Regions from separate parts of the Homo sapiens genome. Here regions 2, 3 and 4 are each linked to region 1. The links come from fine-mapping of genetic effects on gene expression. A gene starts in region 1. Each other region holds a variant in brackets. All regions are shown on one strand. Distances are between the middles of the regions.

The links. PIP is the estimated chance that this variant, and not a neighbour inherited with it, causes the effect.
Region 2: its variant is fine-mapped to the expression of CHMP2B in left ventricle (GTEx, PIP 0.98).
Region 3: its variant is fine-mapped to the expression of CHMP2B in transverse colon (GTEx, PIP 0.96).
Region 4: its variant is fine-mapped to the expression of CHMP2B in whole blood (TOPMed, PIP above 0.99).

Annotation. Positions count from the first base shown.
Region 1 is chr3:87,226,125-87,228,813 of GRCh38, forward strand. CHMP2B (charged multivesicular body protein 2B) reads left to right here and starts at 1,185. Exons shown (of 6, transcript NM_014043.4): 1 at 1,185-1,432. The coding sequence starts at 1,399. MIR4795 (microRNA 4795) reads right to left here and starts at 153; the gene lies at 65-153. RefSeq lists enhancers at 637-776, 887-946, 1,037-1,086, 1,137-1,206, 1,277-1,396.
Region 2 is chr3:86,764,946-86,767,637 of GRCh38, forward strand. No RefSeq gene overlaps it. Among named protein-coding and RNA genes, the nearest start is that of VGLL3, 220 kb to the right of the region's middle. The variant C/T (reference allele first, on the strand shown) is at 1,184.
Region 3 is chr3:87,195,151-87,197,842 of GRCh38, forward strand. No RefSeq gene overlaps it. Among named protein-coding and RNA genes, the nearest start is that of MIR4795, 30 kb to the right of the region's middle. RefSeq lists an enhancer at 1,448-1,979. The variant C/T (reference allele first, on the strand shown) is at 1,205.
Region 4 is chr3:87,199,095-87,201,786 of GRCh38, forward strand. No RefSeq gene overlaps it. Among named protein-coding and RNA genes, the nearest start is that of MIR4795, 26 kb to the right of the region's middle. The variant C/T (reference allele first, on the strand shown) is at 1,120.

The DNA of each region.
Region 1 (2,689 bases):
TATCTCAGGAGGGGAAAAATGGGAAAGGCTGGCCTGATTATCATAAATAATAATCCTTGAGACATGATTCATAAATCCAGAAGTGGCTAATAATATTGACATTATTGTTATAGTGTCAATATTATTAGCCACTTCTGGATTTCTTCCATATCAGAGATAATATTTATGAAAAAAAAAATGCTACCATTATTTTTATCCTGTGGAAGGCAGTGTTGCTTTAAACAGTAGAGACTATATACAGGTACGCACGCATAGGTTGTATTTTCCATTTTATACATGCAAGGATTCTTTAAATAATTCATTACATTTTTTCTTTAACATGATATGCAGTTTTTCACAAAAAGCCCAAATAAACGGCTGTGAGGAATTCTAATAGGATCACCGTATAGCCATGACACTTTATGATTCATGATTTACAAGAAATTAAGAAATAGAGCTGGAGACATTTAGACCAGCCTACAAATTTGTGTGTGTGTGTGTGTGTGTGTGTGTGTGTGTGTGTTTTAATGTTTCCAGGCAAGAACCTTAAACAAAAAGTGTAGCATTAAAAAACTTCCCTTCGTCCTCGAGACCCCCCCAACTCTAGACACTGGATCCCCGGAGACCCACGCTGGGTCGTCGGAGTCTGGAGCCGGGGGCGGCAGGTGAGCGGCTAGGGTCCTGCAGGGGTCTGCGCGGTGCGGGGGAGGTCGCCGAGTCAGTCAGTGCCGAAAGGACCGCGAACTCCAGGGGCCAACAATCACCGGGTACGGAACTCAACGTTTCCGCCAGTTCCTGGATTACTCGAGTAAAAACAAACAAACAACAACAACAACAACAACAAAAATACTAACAGCAATGGGACCGTAATAAATCAACTCGGAGTGGGTACAGGCGGTTCCGGGACAACCCACACTTAGTCTAGGAGCCCGGAGATCCCTCATCCAGCTTTCCCCGGGGCAAGGGGTGAAGCGCTAAGCAAGGCTGATCACTGTCCTCAATCATCACCCAACCCGCGCACAGAAGCCGTGGCCCCACGCTCTCCTATCCCCGCCAGCTCCAGACTCGCCCCGCTGCCAACTCCCGGTGCAGGAGGAACTGGCAGCCGCAGACGTGAGGAAAGCGGCCGCGGCTTCAAACTCCGTAGTGCGCAGGCGCCACACAACGCGCAGGCGCCGCCTAGAAGTGACTTCTCCAAAAAGTGTGTTAGTTCCCGGTCACCTGAGCTCCGGGTGACGCGGCTGCGGTAGCTGCGGATACAAGCCTTCCGCGGGTCCTGCCTGGCGACCCCGACCTCCTCCTGCTGTCTCTCCGCTCCGCCACCCCGAACCCGCCAAGGTCCTGTCCTTTTCCTCCTGTCCTTTGCCAGCGTTGGGCCGGACCGGGCCGAGCCGGGCCGCCCGGGCGCAGTCTTTAACCATGGCGTCCCTCTTCAAGAAGAAAACCGTGGATGGTGAGTTCCAGGCCGGGCTGAAGGGGCCCAGCTCTGCGTTTTCTCGGCGTCTTTCGAGGCCTGCTGGCCGCGATTCTGCCTACTGTCCCTGGAGGCGGGGCTGGATCAAGTGGTCCCACAGGTGACCGCCCTCGCGGCACCACTTCTCTGCCTCCCTCTTGCTTCTGACTCACCTCACCTTAGGCTCACCTAGGCAGTCTGGTTGCTTCCCTATCCTCACGATTCCCCCACCCTCGGGTTTTCCTCAGCAGGATCCTGAGCGTTTCGAGGAGGCTAGCTGGCCCTTGAGTGTCAATAAACTTGGAAATCTGATGGATTTCTTGTTGGTTTCCTCTGCTTCGATTGTTGCTCTTCAGTTGGGCGATATACTACTTGTAGGCATCCATACAGGAAACTGGCAGTCTCGGAATGGGGAGGGAGGGGATAACAGGCTCCAGTTAGGAAATGAAGTTGGGTCTGGGTCAGTTGCTTCTTTAAGAACACCCCATCAGTAAAGAGATGTGAAACAAATGCTTTTTTGATTAACCCCAGTAGAAAAATAAACCCAAGGGAAGTGCCCAGATTTAGTTTTCATAATGGATTTTTCTCCCTTATGATTATTTTTTGCCAACTAAAGAAAGAGATGGGGTATATATTGTCTTCATAGAAGTTTAACATGTAAAGATAATTGTGTTGTTTCCCGCATTTAGCTTAATATCATCTTAAGCGGGGAAAAAAGTGAATGTAAAGGAATGTACAAGTTTTATGGTGCTCATATGCGATGCCTATAATGTGTTTATATAACACTTGATGTTTTCATTGATTGCTACCAGGAATTAAATTCATTCAAGTTATTTAAAAATTGTGTTCCCCATTATATGTTTAGTCTAGGTTGTTGCTGGTTCAACCAAAGAATCACTTCTTTGTAAGGGTCTAATTCTGCCACAAAAGGAGCAGTGGTAGCTAGACAGTGATTGGTACAAATAGGGTGCTCAGTCCAGACCTGGACGTAACTCCTTCATTCCTTTGTGTTGACTATTCCAATGCCAGCAAAATTATTTTGGGGAGGATAACAAAGAAGTCATCTCTGCTCTGCTGCTGTACACTTCATTTCAACACATAATCTACTTTACCTCTAATTTATCAGATGACATAATACATTTTTCCTTACTCTGGGTGACTGAACATTTTTTTGATTTATTGACTTTTTATTAAGTACCATTTGCAATACCTGGAATAACTACCAACTTCGTATATTAGGTGATACAGTGATGTGAA
Region 2 (2,692 bases), 460 kb before region 1:
ATGAGTGGAAATATATTCTACATAAACTCTTTAGATCCCAATGATGTTGCAATCAAAGAAATACCTGATATTGTTAACAAAAGCCAATGAGGTCTTCAGAGGAAAAACAAAGGAGAGTTTTGTTTTTAAAACAAAAACAAAAAGCAATATTCAGATAGGGGAGACACCTTTGAAACAAATGTGAAGTAAGCTCCAGATAACAAAGAGCAGGCCTTGCTTAATGAATAGGGAAAGTCTCTGCCTCAGCCCTCAATGAGGTCCACATATGCATATGAAGAATTCCAACTTGTTCAGTCCTAATTGGTTGAATACAGTTAAGTTCTGGCTGGGTAGTTTCCAAGCTCAAACCAGAAGTCTTTTTTAGCTGCCCCTTTCAGGCCGCTGGTGGAAGGAGTTTTCCCACCAGAGCTTGAGCTCCAGTTACAGGAACCATCTTAACTCAGAGGTGCAAACAAGATGTTCCTCTGAAGCTGCCCTCTCTGGGAACAAAGTGGGTGTGACCACCCTTCTCTCATTCACCTTGGCCGATGGGTTAGTTTCATTTCACAATATACAGAAACAATTGACAGCAGACAAAGATACAATAAAAAGTGTTTTTGAGTACATTTCTGTTTTTTCAAGGGATGAGGAATCATTTAACTTCAAAATCGGGCCAGAAATTAACAAAATCAACAAGTTGATCTTAAAATCATTGAGATATGTTATTGATACTTACATTTGTTGCACTTTGATTTGCTACAGTATGGTTCTCATGATACCAAACGTATGATCTTGGTCTTGAAAATTATATGATTCACAAATGATCACCAGACACTTTTGAAATACAAGTATAGGTGGCAGTTGATGGGATTGTGATCAACTCTTTGTAACTCTACTAAGAGCTAACCATTTCAAAAAAAATCTCAACATATATGTTGGCAGCAGTTACTTCTGAAAAAAAAGGACAAAAAACTTTGCAAAACACCTGTAGGTGGTTTCTTAAAGTTTTTATGTTGAGAACTCACAATTTTCTCAGTTGCCTTCCCAAACACTAGAACTCTTTAACTCCTTTTTATGCTACACTAATATATTGAAGTTCAAAAATCTTTGAAAAAAAATTATTCCTAGGAGAGAATATTGTAGATGCAGTGCTGTGAATTGTGATAAGGTATCTTACCTGAGCAAATGATTTAATAGGCTTCAC[C/T]TTAACTTTCATGTCTCAGCAAGAACTTCTAAGTAAATCTTACATGTTAAAATTTGTTTGGAGAAGAAAGAAACGGTGTTTGTGAATTTCAATTTGAATCAGAAGACATTTTGACATTATTCATGTGGAAAATATTTATGTGCATAAAACAAACAAATAAATTAAACATGTTGTTTTGGTAACCACTTCATTGTATTGTATGACAGTTGTGTGGTAACTGATGTATTATGTAGCAATTGTTTTTCCCAAACAGCTAAATATTTTCCATACACAATTTCTTTTTCCAAATGAAAAGTGCAGACAGCTCTAGAAAGTTTTGGAAATTAAAAAAAAATGTTTTTGACCTCCAGATCAAATAATTTTATTAACATTCAGTAACATGAACATTAAAAACACAGCCATCAGCATATTTTCTGCATTCTCCGCACTTATTTTATGTGACTAAGAAATTATGCACACATCCAAAATGGATGTAACCTTGTAACATATTATAAGCTTTGCTTAACACATAGATAACTGAGAAAAATACATTAATAATTCACCATATTCCCTAATGACAATATACGATCTTTTACTTTATTTGGGTGATGGATACCCTTAATTGTGTACTACAATAAAGAAAAATCATATATTTTCTTAAAGCATTAATGAAAAGGTCTTTATACTATCAGATCATCTTTGCCTTAAATGTAACAGGAATCAAGGAATATTCACTCACTAGCCTTCTAAATTTATCGATCAAATTTAGAATTGTGTGTTTAATAATAGTGTCTATTCAGAAAAACAGACTCATCTGCAATGGGTAGTAGATAAACAGACTTTTAACTCATTGAGTTACAGAGGTATATATATTGTCCTTCGAGTTATAGAACTGAAAAGCCAACAAAGACCTTCAGAAAGAAGGAAACAGAGGAGGAGGGATTATATTTCCTGAAACCAACTCTAAATGAGAAATTATATGAAGGTCTGTTTTATAGATAAAATTAAGCCTACAGATAAGTTTTCTAGTACTCACAGTGGTGTGTGTGTGTGTGTGTGTGTGTGTGTGTGTATGTATTCATTATATCTAAATTTTAAAATTAAATTAAAATTCTTTAAGAAAATTATGCATTAACCAATATGTCACTGCCATCACCATTTCCTATTGTCTTATGCACAGCACAATTCATACAATTATCATTTTTAGCAGCTCGTTTAGGTATTTCCATTTCTGGCCCATGCTCTACATAAACTATGCTATCTCTTATTTGAAATAGTGTTCTGTAAAAGCAATGGTCAAAAAAATATTGGTTTCTGATGTACAACTTTCTATTATCCCCATGATTATAGTTTATTTATATCTAGTCAAATCATTTCATTATAATTTTAATGATAACACCTTTAAATGTTTTTAATATACTTACTCATTTTTGTATATAACTTGTCAAGGAGTATAAGAGTAAACTTGCTATCTGAAGAGCTACAACCGAAGATAAAGAAAAATATAAAAACACAGTTTCTGGCTTGAAT
Region 3 (2,692 bases), 31 kb before region 1:
CTCCTCAGCCATGTGGAACTGTGAGCCAATTAAATCTCTTTTCTCTATAAATTACCCAGTCTTGGATATTTCTTCAGAGCAGTATGAGAATGGGCTAGTACAGTAAATTGGTACCAGAAGTTGGGTGCGGCTATAAGGATACCTCAAAACATGGAAATGACTTTGGAACTGGGTAACAGGCAGAGGTTGAAACAATTTTGAGGGCTCAGAAGAAGAAAGGAAAATGTGGGAAAGTTTGGAACTTCGTAGAGACTCGTTGAATGGCTTTGCCCAAAATGCTAATAGTGACATGTACAATGAAGTCTAGACTGAGGGGGTCTCAAACGGAGATGAGGAACTTGTTAGGAACTGGAGTAAAAGTCACTCTTGTTATGCTTTAGCAAAGAGGCTGGCAGCATTTTGCCCCACCCTAGAGATCTCTGGAACTTTGAACTTAAGAGAGATGATTTAGGGTAACTGGCAGAAGAAATTTCTAAACAACAAAGCGTTCAAGAGGAAGCAGAGCATAAAAGTTTGGAAAATTTGCAGTCTGATGATGCGATAGAAAAGAAATAAAGATTTTCTTGGGAGAAATTCAAGCCTGCTGCAGAAATTAGCATATGTAACAAGGAGCCCAAGGTTAATTACCAAGACAATGGGGAAAATGTCTCCGGGGCATGTCAGAAACCACAGCAGCACTTCCCGTCACAGGCCTGGAGGCCAAAGAGAGAAAAATGATTTTATGGGCTGACTCCAGGGCCTCCCTGCTGCTCTGTGCAGCCTCAGGACTTGGTGTCCTGCCTCCCAGCATTGGCTAAAAGGGGCCAGGGTATAGCTCAGGCCATTGCTTCAGAGGGTGTAAGCCCAAAGCCTTGGTGGCTTGCATGTAGTATTTGACCTGCAGGTACAGAGAAGTCAATAATTGAGGTTTGGGAACCTCTGCCTAGATATCAGAGGATGTATGGAAACACCTGGATATACAGACAGAAGTCTGCTGAAGGGACAGAGCCCTCATGGAAAACCTCTGCTAGGGCAGTGCATAAGGGAAATGTGGGGCTGGAGCCCACATGCAGAGTCCCCACTGGGGCAGGGCCTGGTGGAGTTGTGAAAGAGGGCCACCGTCCTCCAGACTCCAGAATGGTAGATTCACTGACAGCTTGCACTGTGCATCTGGAAAAGCACAGACACTCAATGCCAACCTGGGAAAGCAGCTAGGAGGAGGGGC[C/T]TTACCCTGCAAAGCCACAGGGGTGTAACTATGCAAGGCTATGAGAGTCCAACTCTTGCATCAACGTGCCCTGGATGTAAGACATGGAGTCAAAGGAGATCATATTGGAACTTTAAGGTTTAATGACTGCCCCTTTGTTTTGGCCAATTTCTCCCATTTGCAGCAGCTGTATTTACCCAATGTCTGCACCTCCATTGTATCTAGGAAGTAACTAACTTGGTTTCGATTTCACTGGCTCATAGGTGGAAAGGACATGTCTTGTCTCAGATGAGACTTTGGACTTGGACTTTTGGGTTAATGCTGGAATGAGTTAAGACTTTGTGGGACTGTTGGAAGGGCATGATTGTCTTCTGAAATGGGAGGACATGAGATGTGGGAGGGGTGAGGGATGGAATTATATGGTTTGGCTTTGTGTCCCCACCCACATCTCACCTTGAGTTGTTATAATCCCCATGTGTCCAGGGTGGGACCAGGTGGAGGTAATTGAATCATGGGGGTGGTTTCCCCCATGCTGTTCTAGTGATAGTGAGTTCTCACAAGATCTGATGGTTTTATAAGCATCTGGCATTTCCCCTGCTGGCACTCATTCTCTCTCCTGCTGCTTTGTGAAGAGGTGCCTCCTGTCATGCTATATGTGGCCACATTCCAATATGAGGTGATGCACTATGTATGCAGACTTACTAAGAGAGTGGCAAGACTGGATTTGCAACTCTCAGCCTGTCACCCTCTTCCAAGCTGAGGGTGTAGATAAATTTTCTGGAGTGCTTTACCATCCACCCTCCCTCCATTGCTGGATATACACAGACACACCCACACACAAACACACCCCCATGCACTGGGAAAGAAAAAGAGGTGGTTCTTCCCTCTTGATGTAAGTCAAGTGATAGGACTTGGCCCTCGAAGTTTGTTAGGTACAGAAGCTGATGCCAGATGTGTACCTTAAAAAGTCCACAGGGAATAGACTGAATGGCAGAGGTAAGAGGCTACAATGGAAACAAATCTCATTAAAGGCAGAAGAAAGGTATGTGATGCTCTCTGGCTGGAGAGTAACATAAGTATCATGTGCAGCCTGAAGCCCTTTTAAGTGCTACTACAGGAGACTGCCTAGTAGGTTTATATGACCCCAATAGAGTGATGGGCCTTTGGATGCTCATGGTAGGGGCCTGAAGGAGGGGTCATATGTGGAGTGAAATGGACTACGTGAGAACAGTATTGCGCACCTCAAAGGCAACTCAATCAGAAGTTCCCAGCTGTGCATGTACCTGAGGAACCCAGGAAGGCATCTAGCAGGGCGTGTTGGTATTAGCAAACAACCACATCTAGAGAGCACCATCCACTGGATTTTATACCTGTGCCTGTCAATAAGCTCCTTCCTGTTTCTTACATCTCTCCTCTTTCAGTCGTTAACCTGGAAGGGAGTCAGGGCCATCCCAGAGATGAATGTTAGGAAGGGGTGTGGAACAGCAAGGTGATCCTTGCCCTGGGTAA
Region 4 (2,692 bases), 27 kb before region 1:
TATTTTTAAATGTCTCAAGTGATGAGGCTGGTTGTTCAACCAAGTTCAGGAACACACTTTAATTCCACCCATTATCTATCATTGTGAACACAAGCCTGCTGTTTTTCTCTGCTGATAATCTATCATCTTACAGGAGTGAGGGTGGCTTCAAACCACAGGAGCAAAGAGCAGTCACAGATTTGGCTTACAAGGAGATTTATAAGTTGAACTCCACACAGAGAAATATATTCAACTCAACTTTTCCTTGCTCAAGTTATGTATAATGTTCCTTCCCTGTCTCCTTTTGGAAACTTAGCTACAATAGAGAAAAGTAACCAGATAATGAAGACAAAGTAGGAATGGGTAAATCTAAAATGTATATCTAGTCTTTCAGAATTAATTTCCAGAATATTATTTTTAATGGGAGACAAATCCTTATTTTCTGCACATAAATAGAAACCAATAGGGATGTCCTACTGAAGGACTCTCTCCTAAATGTCCTTATTCTTCCTTCATTATGCTATCTATTTTCCCAGGATAGCAACATTAATTTGACATGGCTGAATTATGCTACCTACTGTTTCCTGTATAGCACTTTCAGTGCCTCAGGCTGGGTTTCCCGCTTTGGGGATAGGGGCCAGAAAGATATTTCTAACTCTCCTGTAGTATGAGAAGCAATTAAGCTACAAGTTGCTTAGCTGTAAGCAGTTAACCTCACAAACCTAATAAATTATTTGATTATATGGAATGCTTAGAACTTTGACCCCCTTTAGTAAATATGCATGAAATTGCAAAACTTATTCTCTTTTTTTTTCACTTGATTATTTTACTATCTCCCACTTTACTCCATGCTTTAAGACGTACAAGTAGCAAATAGGATAGATGCATGGGTTCTCCCATTGCCAAATCATATGACTCTATTGTCTTTGCTGCTACTATGTTCATTGTTTCAGTTAAAGATTGTACCACTTTATTTCTGCATATGAGAGAAAGCAGCACTTTTGTCTTTGTCCCCTGTACTCAATTAAAAACAAACAAACAGGCATAAAACATGGACACTAATGAACCAAAACTGGTCTGTAATTAATTTTAAATTCACTACTAGTTTAGAAAATTAGCTAACACTGCAAATTGCATTGA[C/T]CACGATCAGACCCTTGATAACAAGGCCTATTGTGTGAAATGTGCAAGTCAGCAGAAACACAAATGAAAACCTTTCAGCTTTAAACATTTCTACCAGCATGAAAATTGAACAAAGCAAGATGAAATCTGAATTTTTTAAAACAGCTTTAAACAACTATGTCTCACACAAGCTCAATTAATAAATCACTTCAAAGTACAGTTTCCTTTTTGCATATTCATTTTTATGAGGTCAACCCATCAGAGGAATGATAGGTATGAGAGAGCAAAATTCTGCCTTTTATTCCTAGAACCTCAATAATAATATTCCAGGCAGTCTTAGTGCTCAGATAGATACGTATAGAAATAGCCTTTATTCGATTGTGAAAATTAATTTGAAAATATGCAAAATTAAAGGAATTTGCACCATTATTTAATGCAAAGAAAGGGAAAATGTATCATAACTTTATAGCTGAATAATTCCCTAATCCTGTTTATACCTAATTAATCCTGAGATTGCTTGGCTTTTAAAGAAGTGCTCTGACAACTAAATCAGAAGTTTATTTTCATTCTAATTATCCTGATATGTTATATAGTATTCAATATTTACATACTTAAGACTTGTAATAATTTCACATATATGTATTTGTTGTTGTTATTTTTCTACTTTTAAAGCAATACAACTTTCATCTGTGATTTTTGAAATAGTCCAAATGGTACAAATATAATTCTGGATTGCAGTTCATCCTCAACCATGATGTTCCCTGGGTTTGAAATTCAGTCTCATCATTTGTCAACTAAGGGAAATTGTTAAATCTATTCAACACTTAGTTTTGTTAGTTATGCAGTAGAGAAATCTGTTATTCCTGTCTTGTAGAGATAGCAATTACAGGAGCAATCTATAGGACTGAGTCAAAGAATACAGAAAAGATACTTGTTCATCTTTCATAATTTTTCGGTTGATAATCCATTTCCCCTGAATTCATGCCCTTACCTTCTCTAGACCTCCAAACAGCTCTGGAACTTGTGGCCAATCTTTTTGATTTTCATCAGTTTTCATCATTATTTGCTTCCTGAGTACTCTCACTCATGAGAAGATAATTTTCCCTCATCATTCACGTTCTCTTTCTTTCTTTCTTTTCTTTTCTTTTTCTTTTCTTTTTTTTTTTTTTGAGATGGAGTCTTGCTCTGTTGCCCAGGCTGGAGTGCAGTGGCACCGTCTAGGCTCACTGCAACCTTCGCCTCCCAGGTTCAAGCGATTCTCCTGCCTCAGCCTCCCAAGTAGCTGGGATTACAGGTGTCTGCCACCATGCCTGGCTAATTTTTGTATTTTTAGTAGAGATGGGGTTTCACTATGTTGGCCAGGCTGATCTTGAACTCCTGACCTCAGGTGATCCACCCAGCTTGGCCTACCAAAGTGCTGGGATTACAGACACTCTCTTTCTTGAATCCCTTTCCAGTGAAAACATGTACACAGCACTTCCTCCTATCCATTGAAAAATCTCATTTAAAATTCTTAATGACTTCCCCAACAAAAGAAAACAGATGCTCCCCCCAAAACTCCAGATGCTGTACAATGTCTGACACCATACACAGC